Linked DNA regions of Homo sapiens: region 2 is linked to region 1. Evidence: fine-mapped expression QTL. A gene starts in region 1. The other region holds a variant in brackets. All regions are shown on one strand. Distances are from middle to middle. Region 1 holds the start of RCC1L (RCC1 like). Region 2 overlaps RCC1L (RCC1 like).

Region 1 (5,375 bases):
GCAGGCATGGTGGCATGTGCCTGTAATCCCAGCTACTCGGGAGGCTGAGGCAGGAGAATCACTTGAACCCGGGAGGTGGAGGTTGCAGTGAGCCAGGATCTCGCCACTGCACTCTAGCCTGGCAACAGACTGAGACTCTGTCTCAAAAAAAATACAAAAAAAGAGCTTTCTCAGACCAATCCCGGCAAAGAGGAGACAAGGTAGGGATGCTCACTTTTATCTTTCCGGCTCCTGTGAAATCCAAGCTGAGAATCTTTGTTGAGTCCCATCCCCCAGACTTTCGTAACATCCGCAGTCTTAGAGGACAGCAGTGTGAATCCATAGCCGCAAGCAGCAGATGAAATCTGAAAAGCAGTTCCCACAAAGCATGAACTGATTTATAATGTCAAGTTTGTTCAGTAGTAAATGACAGGTTATTTATCAAATCCAAGAACACATACTATTTACGGGGGTTTTGTTTTTGTTTTTGAGACAGTCTCACTCTGTTGCCCAGGCTGGAGTGCAGTGGCGCAATCTCGGCTCACTGCAATCTCCATCTCCCAGGTTCAAGCCTCCCAAGTAGCTGGGACTACAGGTGTGCACACCACGTCTGGCTAACTTCTGTATTTTTAGTAGAGACAGAATTTCACTATGTTGGCCCAGGTGATCTCAAATTCCCGGCCTCAAGTGATCTGTCCGCCTTGGCTTCCCAAGGTGCTGGGACTATATGCGTCAGCCACCGTGCCTGGCCCAAGAACACATATTATTAAGACAGCAACTAGCATTTATTGAGCATTTACTATATGTTTGATAAGTATTATCTCATTTAATCTTTATAATCACTCTATGAAGGGTGATTTACACATAGACCATAAATATAGTCTATTTATGGTCTATGTCAGCTTACCACTAGGTATTACCATCCCCATTCACCAAGATCAAGACACTATCTAGCAGCAGCCGAGTACGGTGGCTCACACCTGTAATCCCAGCACTTTGGGAGGCTGAGGCAGGCAGATCACTTGAGGTCAGGAGTTTGAGACCCGCTTTGGCCAACATGGTGAAACCCCATCTCTACTAAAAATACAAAAATTAGCTAGGCATGGTGGCGTGCGCCTGTAATCTCAGCTACTCGGGAGGCAGGAGAAGTGCTTGAACCTGGGAGGCAGAGGTTGCAGTGAGCCAAGATGGCGCCACTGCATTCCAGCCTGGGTGACAGAATAAGACTCTGTCTCAAAAACAAAACAAAACAAAACAAAACAAAAAACACCACCATCTCTTAGCGCGGTAGGTAAGTTGACAGATCTCCTTAGTTTTGAATCCTGGCCCCATCCTTACCAACTGTGTGATCTGAGATAGATTACTTTACCTCTATATCTGTTTCTCCTTCTCTAAAAAGTAAAGATGATAATAGTACCATCTCTCTCACTAAGCTGTTGTGAAGACTAAACGAGTTAATATAGCTAAAGCCCTTATAGGGAATAGTACCCATCTCAAGGTAAGAGCTATATTTTGAGCCTAGGCAACAAAGTGACAACCTGTCTCTATGAAAAAATCAAAATTTAAGCTTGGTCCCAGCTACATGGGAGGCTGAAGCAGGAGGATCACTTGAATCCAGGAGGTCGAGGCTGCAGTGACCCATGATCACGCCACTGTACTCCAGCCTGGGCAACAGAGCCAGATCAAAAAAAAAAAACAAACCTATATTTTGTACTCTATTTTGTATTTTAAATTTATACATATACATATACATATACATATATATATATATATATATATATATATATGGAGAGAGAGAGAGACAGAGAGATGAGTTCTCACTGTGTTACCCAGGCTGGTCTCAAACTCTTGAACTCAAATGATCCTCCTGCCTTGGCCTCCCAAAGTGCTGAAATTACAGGCATGAGCTACCGCACCTGGCCTATATTGTATGCTTTTTGTTGTTGTTGTTTAGTTTTTGTTATTGCTTTTGTTATTATATTTTCTATTTCTTATTGCTGTTAGCAGTAGTATAAGGCAGATGAGAAAGTGTGGCTTCTAAAGGTTGAGTAACTTGACTGCATGCTTTTCACTGACACTACACCGTTACGTACTCAGGCTATTACCATGAAAAGGAAAACTCAGTACTACAGCTACTGTGAATTTAACACAGTGACAACCCCAAGGTCTTTGTTGGGTGTTTTAACTACACTCTCATCAATCCTCCCTTCACTGACCCGATGAGAAAACCGGGGCTTCCAGTGAGGTTGGATATAGACCAAAGATGGTTTGATTTTAAAATCAATCCTCTTTCAGCCAGGCACAGTGGCTCACGCCTGTAATCCCAGCACTTTGGGAGGCCAAGGCGGGCGGATCGCTTGAGTTCAGTTCAAGACCAGTCTAGCAAACATGGCGAAACCCCATCTCTACTAAAAATACAAAAATTTGCCGGGCTAGGTGGCAGGACGATCTCTTGAGCCCAGGAGGTCGAGGCTGCAGTGAGCTATGATGACACCACTGCACTCCAGCCTGAGCGACAGAGCGAGACCCTGTCTCTAAAAAATAAATTAAAACAAAAAAATCCCCTTTCTGAGTTGTTCATTGAAACACCTCAGCTGGTATACATTTTCAATGGACTTTTGAATTTTGCTTTCCTAACATCAGAACTCCTGCAGTCACGCTGGCCTGAGTGAGAATTCCACCGCATATAAACAGCTAGCAGCGGTGGGGCCTCGGGCCTCAACCTCTCTGGGCCTCCCCTTCCTTCCCTGTAATTGGGAATAACTGTCGACTCACTGGGTGCTAAGCGAATGACACGACCCGGCACAACATCTGGCACTGCCACCCAATAAATGTTGATGGCCACCCCTAACGCCTTCCCCTCCTGGGCTTGCAGCCAGCTCGAGGGTCGTCCTGCCGGAAGTCTGTCCACCCAGAGGAGCCAACTTCTTGAAGAGAGCCGAACAGGTCGAGGGAGGCCGGGAGCGCGGAAGAGAGAGAAGGAGAGAAGGAGGAAGCCGCGGCCTGCACCTTTTGGTCCAGCTCCAGGCGATAGGGCACGGGCTGGATCCTGCGGCGCGGTCGGGCGCCGGCGCGGGGCCCGGGCCCGGAGCTGGGCACCACAAAGGAAGGCACGCCCAGCGCCCCCGAGAAGCTGAAGCCCCACACGAAGACGCGATCGGCGCGGGCAGCGCGCTCGCCCACGTACTGGACCACGGGCACCTCCGCCTCGGCTTCTGCCGCTTCGCGCCGGCTCCGGGAGCGCCCGGCCGCCGTCCAGTGCCCTCGCCCCAGCCCCGGCCCGCTCAGCCGCCGCCCCAGCCGAGCCCCAGCCACCAACGCCACCAGCGCCATCCTCCGTTCCGCGCCTCAGCAGCCTCTGGGCGCCGCCATCTTGCGTGACCCTTAACACCAGTCCTCGCCGGAAGAGGCTACGGCCACTTTTACTCCTGGTTGAAGGCAAAGGCGCTGACGGCAGCCCAAGGCTCAGGGAGGCGTGGCGTGGCGATGGTGAGGGGCGGGGTTAGGGGCGGGATTAGGATTCTTGTCCCTTAGCGAAACTGCGTGTCCTGTTTTGCTCCCTTGCTATTGCCCCGCGACATTTCTTACCTGGCCTTGCTGCAGCCGTCTCCGCTCCGGTCTGCTCCCACGCCGCCCCAGGCCGTCCTCCAGCGACAGCGAGCTGGAGTGGACGATTCCCTGCTGCCTTCGCATCCCCTGCCCAGGTCCCCTCAAACCTATCGACAGGCTCACTGCAACCTCCCCCTCCTGGGTTCAAGTGACTCTCGTGTCTCAGCCTCCCGAGTAGCTGGGACCACAGGCGTACGCCACCACGCCCGGCTAATTTTTGTATTTTTAGTAGAGACAGGGTTTCACGATGTTGGCCAGGTTGGTTTTGAACTCCTGACCTCCAGTGATCCACCCACCTCGGCCTCCCAAAGTGCTGGGATTACAGGCATAAGCCACCGCCCCCAGCCTGTGCAGGCCTGTTTTATGGAAGATGACTGGGGAAAACCCACTAATAAAATGTGGTGACCACAAGACTGCTCATGGAAAGCCTCTTACTACAGGGAGTAAAATTCATGAAGGCACTGAAACCACCAGTCTCCCGGGCTATGAAATGTATTCTCTGCGGCGGACCCAGTCTTCCAGCACTTTGGAAGACAAAGGTGGGAGAATCACTTGAGAGTTCGAGACCAGCCTGGGCAAATAGTGGGACCCTTTCTCTACAAAAAAATTTAAAAATTAGCTCGGCGTGATGGTGTGCACCTGTGGTGCCAGCTACTTAGGAGACTGAGGCAGGTGGATGGCTTAAGCCCAGGAGTTCGAGGCTGCAGTGAGCCATGATTGCACCACTGCACTCCAGCCAGGACAGCAGAGTGAGACCCTGTCTCTGAAAAAAAAAAAAATTAAATTAAATGTAAATATAAAAGTAAAAATAAATGTGTCTATGGACCCGCCTGGTAGTAAGTTCCCTGCCACCATTTGGGATAGATAAACTTAGCCATTCACATCGGTCCCCTTACCCTGTCTCGACCCAGCCAGTATTCAATCAGAACACACACTGTTTGCCACATGGAATTGTAGATGCTAGTGCCACCTTCAAAGATGTAAAAGATTCAGAGGGGTGGTGATTCCTATCCAATGGGTAGCTCCCCATTGAGTTCACCTGTTTGGCTCCTAAAAAAACTGATGGATTGGCCAGGCATAGTGGCTCACACCTGTAATCCCAGCATTTTGGGAGGGCAAGGCAGGCACATCACGAGGTCAAGAGATGGAGACCATCCTGGCCAACATAGTAAAACCCCATTTCTACTGAAAATACAAAAATTAGCTGGGCGTGGTGGAACGCACTGTAGTCTCAGCTACTTGGGAGGCTGAGGCAGGAGAATAGCTTGAACCCGGGAGGCGGAGGTTGCAGTGAGCCGAGATCGCACCACTGCACTCCAGCCTGGCGACAGAGCGAGGCTCCGTCTCAAAAAATAAAAAAAGATGGACTGTGGTAGGGGACAGGGGACCACCATACATTTAGGCAAGTGCATGGTCCAACTCATAGCTGCTGTGTCAAGCGTGCCGTCTGTTTTTTTGTTCGTTTGTTTGTTTTTTGAGACAGAGTCTCAGTCTATCACCCAGGCTTGAGTACGGTGACATGATCTCGACTCACTGCAACCTCCGCCTCCTGGGTTCAAGCAATTCTCCTGCCTCAGCCTCCCAAGTAGTTGGGATTACAGGCGTGCACAACCACACCCGGTTAATTTTTTGTATTTTTAGTAGAGACGGAATTTCACCATGGTGGCCATGACTGGTCCCCAACTCCTGACCTCAGGTGATCTGCCCGCCTCCACCTCCCAAAGTGCTGAGATTACAGGCCTGAGCCACCGCGCCCAGCCATGGCATCTGTTTTACCAGAAGAGATC
Region 2 (5,375 bases), 21 kb before region 1:
CTGGAAGCAGAGGTTTGAATCAGGTGGCTCAGATGTCACCTCCCGGGCCCACATACTCAGAAAAGGCCAAATTCTGCAAGTCTAAGAATAACTAGTTGGTACCAGTGTATGAGCTACAAGTAAAGTTTTACTCTTTTTTTCTCTTCTTTTCTGGAATACTTTTTAAATGATGTAATATATCCCCTACGGAAGATTAATTTGAACATAGTTGTTTTAAAGAATAAAGATCACCCAAGCCAGTGACTCACCCCTGTAGTTCCAACATTTTGTGAGGCCAAGGTGGGAAGACCACTTGAGGCAGAAGTTTGAGACCAGCCTGGGCAACATAGGAAGACCTCATCTCTCAAATAAATAAAATAAAACAAATAAATATAAATAATAAAATAAGCCGTGTGTGGTGGCACATGCCTGTAATCTCAGCTATTCCAGAGGCTGAAGCAAGAGGATCACTTGAGACCAGGAGGTTGAGATCAACACATAAGACCCCGTCTCTTAAAAAAAAAACGAAAAAAAAATTATTTGGGTGTGGTGCTGGCACATGCCTGTCATCCCATCCCACATCTCAGTTACTTGTGGGGCTGAGGCAGGAGGATAGCTTGAGCCTGGGAGTTTGAGGCTGCAGTGAGTGTGATCACACCATACTCCAGCCTGGGCGACAAAGCAAGACCCTGTTTTCAAAAAAAAAAAAAAATCCTGGGCAACACGGCAAGACCCCATCTCTACAAAAAATACAAAAATTAGCAAGGTGTGGTTGTGCAAGCCTGTAATCCCAGCTACTCGGGAGGCTGAGATAGGAGGATCACTTGAACCTGGGAGACAGAGGCTGCAGTGAGCCGAGATCCTGTCACCACACTCCAGCTTGGGTGACAGAGCAAGACCCTGTCTAAAAGAACAAACAAACAAAACAAAGAAAAGAAAAATCACTTGTAATTTTTTTTTTAAGTGAGTCATCAGAAGGGACTGGACTCTCCCACCCCAATCCAAAGAGGACAGGGGTCGAGGCCACTCCGTGCACAAACCCTTAGGGGCTCCCTGAATGTGCAAGAGGAAGGACAATGGTTTGGCGCCAAATGCCGCCGTCACGGGGACAGGCTGGGGTGCTCTTTTCCCAAAGGCACAAATGTGTTTAAAAAGCAAATGATAGCCAGGCGTCGTGGCATGCACCTGTAATCCCAGCTACCAGGGAGGCTGAGGAAGGAGAATCACTTGAACCCGGAAGGTGGAGGTTTCAGTGAGCTGAGATCATGCCACTGCACTCAAGCCTGGGCAACAGAGCAAGACTCCATCTCAAAACAATAATAATAAAATAAAAATAAAAATAAAAAGCAAATGACCAGAAGGACACTTGGTGTGTGGCGAGCCAGGGCAAGTGACCCAGATGGAATGTCAACGGGATCGGGCTCCGGCCACTCCCTGCCCGCACAGGGACCAGCGCTTTGCACATGCCCTTATGGCAGGGGCAACGTGACCTGAGTCAAATCTCAGGCTGATCACTCTGATTTGAAGGAAATGAGGGCGGGGGGCAGACCCTCGTCAGCGTTCTTTCACCCAAAACCCGGCTGCTTTAACTGTTTCCCAAGTTCCCCCCTCAGAAGGAAGTCCTTTTCGAAAGAAAGGGCAAAGTGAGAGAAGAGAGGAGTCAGTGAGAAAGCAAGTGGGCATGTAGATGACTGATGCTCACATTATCTGAGCCACACCCACTGCCCGACTCTCTGTTCCTCACACCGGCAGTTTCCAGGCTCAGGAGAAAGCCGGCAAGCCCCACCACCTTGGGAACAACTCTATTATACAAACAGCTTTCCAACAAGGCTAAAGTCGCCCGGGCGTGATGGGTCATGCCTGTAATCCCAGCACTTTGGGAAGCTGAGGGAGGCAGATTGCTTGAAGCCGGAAGTTTGAGACCAGCCTGGGCAACATAGTGAGACTCCCATCTCTACTAAAAATAAAAAAATTTGTCAGGTGTGGTGGTGTACGCCTGTGGTCCCAGCTATTCAGGAGGCTGAGGTGGGAGGATCACCTGAGCCCAGGAAGGTCAAGGCTGCAGTGAGCTGTGATCACATCACTGCAATCCAGCCTGAGTGATAAAAGTGAGACCCTGTCTCATAATAAGCAAAAACAAAAAAACAAAGTTAAAGTCTCCATTTCAACTTGCTTTCTCAGAGCCTCCACCGATAGTCTTGGAAAAAATATATATATATATATATTTAATATATATAAACGTATAATATAAATGTATTATATATGTATATATATTTATATGTGTGTGTGTATATATACACACATATATACACACACATATAAATACATACATATATATATACACACATATATACACACACACACACATATATATACACACACACATATATATACACACATATATATATACACACATATATATATACACATTTCTTTTGCAAGTCCTTTGTTTTTTTTTGAGACACAGTCTCCCTCTGTTGCCCAGGCTGGAGTGCAGCAGCGTCTGATCTTGGCTCACTGCAACCTCTGCCTCCCGGGTTCAAGTGATTTCCTGCCTCAGCCTCCCAAGTAGCTGGGATTACAGGCGTGTGCCACCATGCCTGGCTAATTTTTGTATTTTTAATAGACATGGGGTTTCA[T/C]CATGTTGGTCAGACTGGTCTCGAACTCCTGACCTTGTGATCCACCCACCTGGGCCTCCCCAAGCGCTGGGATTACAGGTGTGAGACACCACACCTGGTGCAAGTCCTTTTTAAAAACGCTTTTCACAATTTCAAAACAAATTAAAATCCAACCTTCTGATAAAATACACCCATATGCACACTGCACACACATGTATGTACTCACAGGCACACACACACAAAGCACGCATGCACACCAGTCTCTATGCAGAGACTATCTCTGGAAAGGAACATAAAGAAATCAGGACCAGTGGCTGCCTCTGGAACAAAAACTGGGTGGTGGGAGACTCATTTTCCATAGTGCATTTTTTTGTACCATGAACATATGTTTCATGTTCAAAAAACCCCAAAAACCTCCTTTTTTAGAATGCCTTAAAGAACTGACTTAGTAAACAACACTAAGGTAAACTACAATTTTAGAATGAGCGTCTCTTCCCCTGTAATTCTGGAAGGAGCCTTTTTGTCTAATTGCATACTACCGCCCCTAAGGAAGCGACTTTATTTTTTCACTTCATAGCTGCGGTTGGGCCATCTAAATATTAAACATCCTGCTTTCTTTTAAATTCATTGTGAAGCATTCCCCCACATGGGCTTCTGTAAACAGCTTCTAGCGTGCCAACTTCATCCAATATCTCCCCCTCTCCGGAGCCTCATGGCACCCTACCAGAGCCTTTGCACCATCGTGCCTCTGTTTCCCCGATCCACCCCAAGGATGGCCTCCGACAGGGCTTCTTATAGGACTGGATGCTTGAGTGGGCTACTCCCTCCAACCTCCCAGTCAGTGGGCCGGGATGGGTTGACCCAGCTCCTGCACCCCAAGAAGCCTGGTGTCACTCCCCCACGCATCACACCATGCAGATGCACCACGGGTATCTCATGGGTGTCACCACAGAGTGTGCAATGACATAGCATGCCGCGCTGCAGGAGTGCAGCCAGGACCCGGAAGGGGGAGCAGGTCCCATGGCCCTCGTCCTGGCCCATCTGCACGCGAGGTGTCTGCAGTGACGTCAGGTGACTCTACTCTTAGCATCCATTCTCAAGACCTCCCCGGCCAGCCTTACCCTCCATGGGAAATACTGGTCCTCCAGGCGACCGATTCCCAGGCACCCTCGGATGTTCTTGCCCCATACAAACAGCTCTCCTTTGTCTGCAAAGGGAGGAAAACAGGGGTTGGTTGGGACTGTGTGAAGAACAAGTCTCCAAGGAGAGGATGGGTCATGAGAACAGGCTTTCTAGAACCAGATACCTACAGAGCCCACTGTTCAGCTTTTACCAGGCGTTCATGCTTTCTTTGAAGGCAAAAGTAAGGGTCTGAGATGCTGTCCCCATATCGAAAACACATCCACGGCCAGGACTTCTGCTGCATCCACCCACGTGGGAGATGAGCACTCAAATGAAGATGGGGCAGGGGGCAGTGCACGGGGCTGGGGGTGATGCATGGAGCTGGGGTCTGGGGGTGGTGCACGGGGCTGGGGGTGGTGCATGGAGCTGGGGTCTGGGGGTGGTGGACAGGGCTGGGGGTGGTGCATGGAGCTGGGGTCTGGGGGTGGTGGACAGGGCTGGGGGTAGTGCATGGAGTTGGGGTCTGGGGGTGGTGGACAGGTCTGGGGGTGGTGCATGGAGCTGGGGTCTGGGGGTGGTGCACGGGGCTGGAGGTCACTGATGCACACGGCCCACTCTGCTCACCCCTTGTGCCCCGCCCACAATCGTGTGCCACCAAACTCTGCCTTCCACAAATCCTGGCGACACCCTGGGCTTCCTGATTTGACAGTGAAAAGTAAGACAATTTGTCATTCCTGGATTGATTGTCCATATCTTGGGAGCATTCAGCCACAGGGCATCTAATGACCAAGTGCCTGCTTGTGCTGGGTCTAGGTCTGTGTTCCAGGAGCTGGGGACTGGCCAGAGACGGAACAGACAGATGATTTTAATATATGTTTACAAACTGTAAAAACTGTCATGAAGAAAAAGTACAAGATGCTGTTTAAGAGGTCAACCCAGGAGATGGCCTCTCCTAGCCCGGCCTTCAGGTGGGACTCTGTCTGCACCAGCTGGGGCACTCCTGGGCCCATGTCACCATCAGCTGTTGGGCAAAAGGCTTGGGTCATGGGAGGCAGAGGAAGTGACATGGAAAAGCCAGGACTACAAGACCTGGGGCTGATGAAGTACGGAATAATTACAAGCTGTCTTAGGCCCCTGATCTAAGCATGCCCCTTGTTCTCCACACTCAGACCTTAGATAGTTTTTGTGTGTGTGTGTTTGTTTGCTTTTGAGACAGGGTCTCACTCTGCTGCCCAGGCTGCGACGCAGTGGCACAAACATAGCTCACTGCAGCCTTGAACTCTCAAACTCAAGCAGTCCTTCCACCTCAGCCTCCAGAGTAGCTGGGACTACAGGCGCACACCACCACACCCAGCTAATTTCTGTATTTTTTGTAGAAAAGGGATCTCACTATGTTGCCTAGGCTAGTCTCGAACTCCTGGGCTTTGAGGGATCCTCTCATCTTGGCCTCCCAAAGTGCTGGGATTACAAGCATGAGCCACTGCACCCAGCTAGCCCTTAGGTGTTTAATAGAACAATTCGGCCTGGCTCCCCAAAATGCTAGCAGACCACAGGATAAACCAACCAACTCTAATTCCCAGATGGCTATCTGCAAATGCCAGGCACACAGGCAGGAAGACAGCTAGGCTCTGTCTACCAACAGGCAGTAACTCACCC

Evidence for each region. PIP is the estimated chance that this variant, and not a neighbour inherited with it, causes the effect. A credible set is the group of variants that fine-mapping cannot tell apart.
Region 2: its variant is the best candidate, but not a certain one, in a credible set for the expression of RCC1L in monocytes (TOPMed, PIP 0.73).

Annotation. Positions count from the first base shown.
Region 1 is chr7:75,070,426-75,075,800 of GRCh38, forward strand. RCC1L (RCC1 like) reads right to left here and starts at 3,377. Exons shown (of 11, transcript NM_030798.5): 1 at 2,989-3,377; 2 at 215-344. The coding sequence starts at 3,312. RefSeq lists a silencer at 3,063-3,282.
Region 2 is chr7:75,048,993-75,054,367 of GRCh38, forward strand. It overlaps RCC1L (RCC1 like), which reads right to left. Exons shown (of 11, transcript NM_030798.5): 10 at 3,719-3,804. Among named protein-coding and RNA genes, the nearest start is that of RCC1L, 22 kb to the right of the region's middle. The variant T/C (reference allele first, on the strand shown) is at 2,619.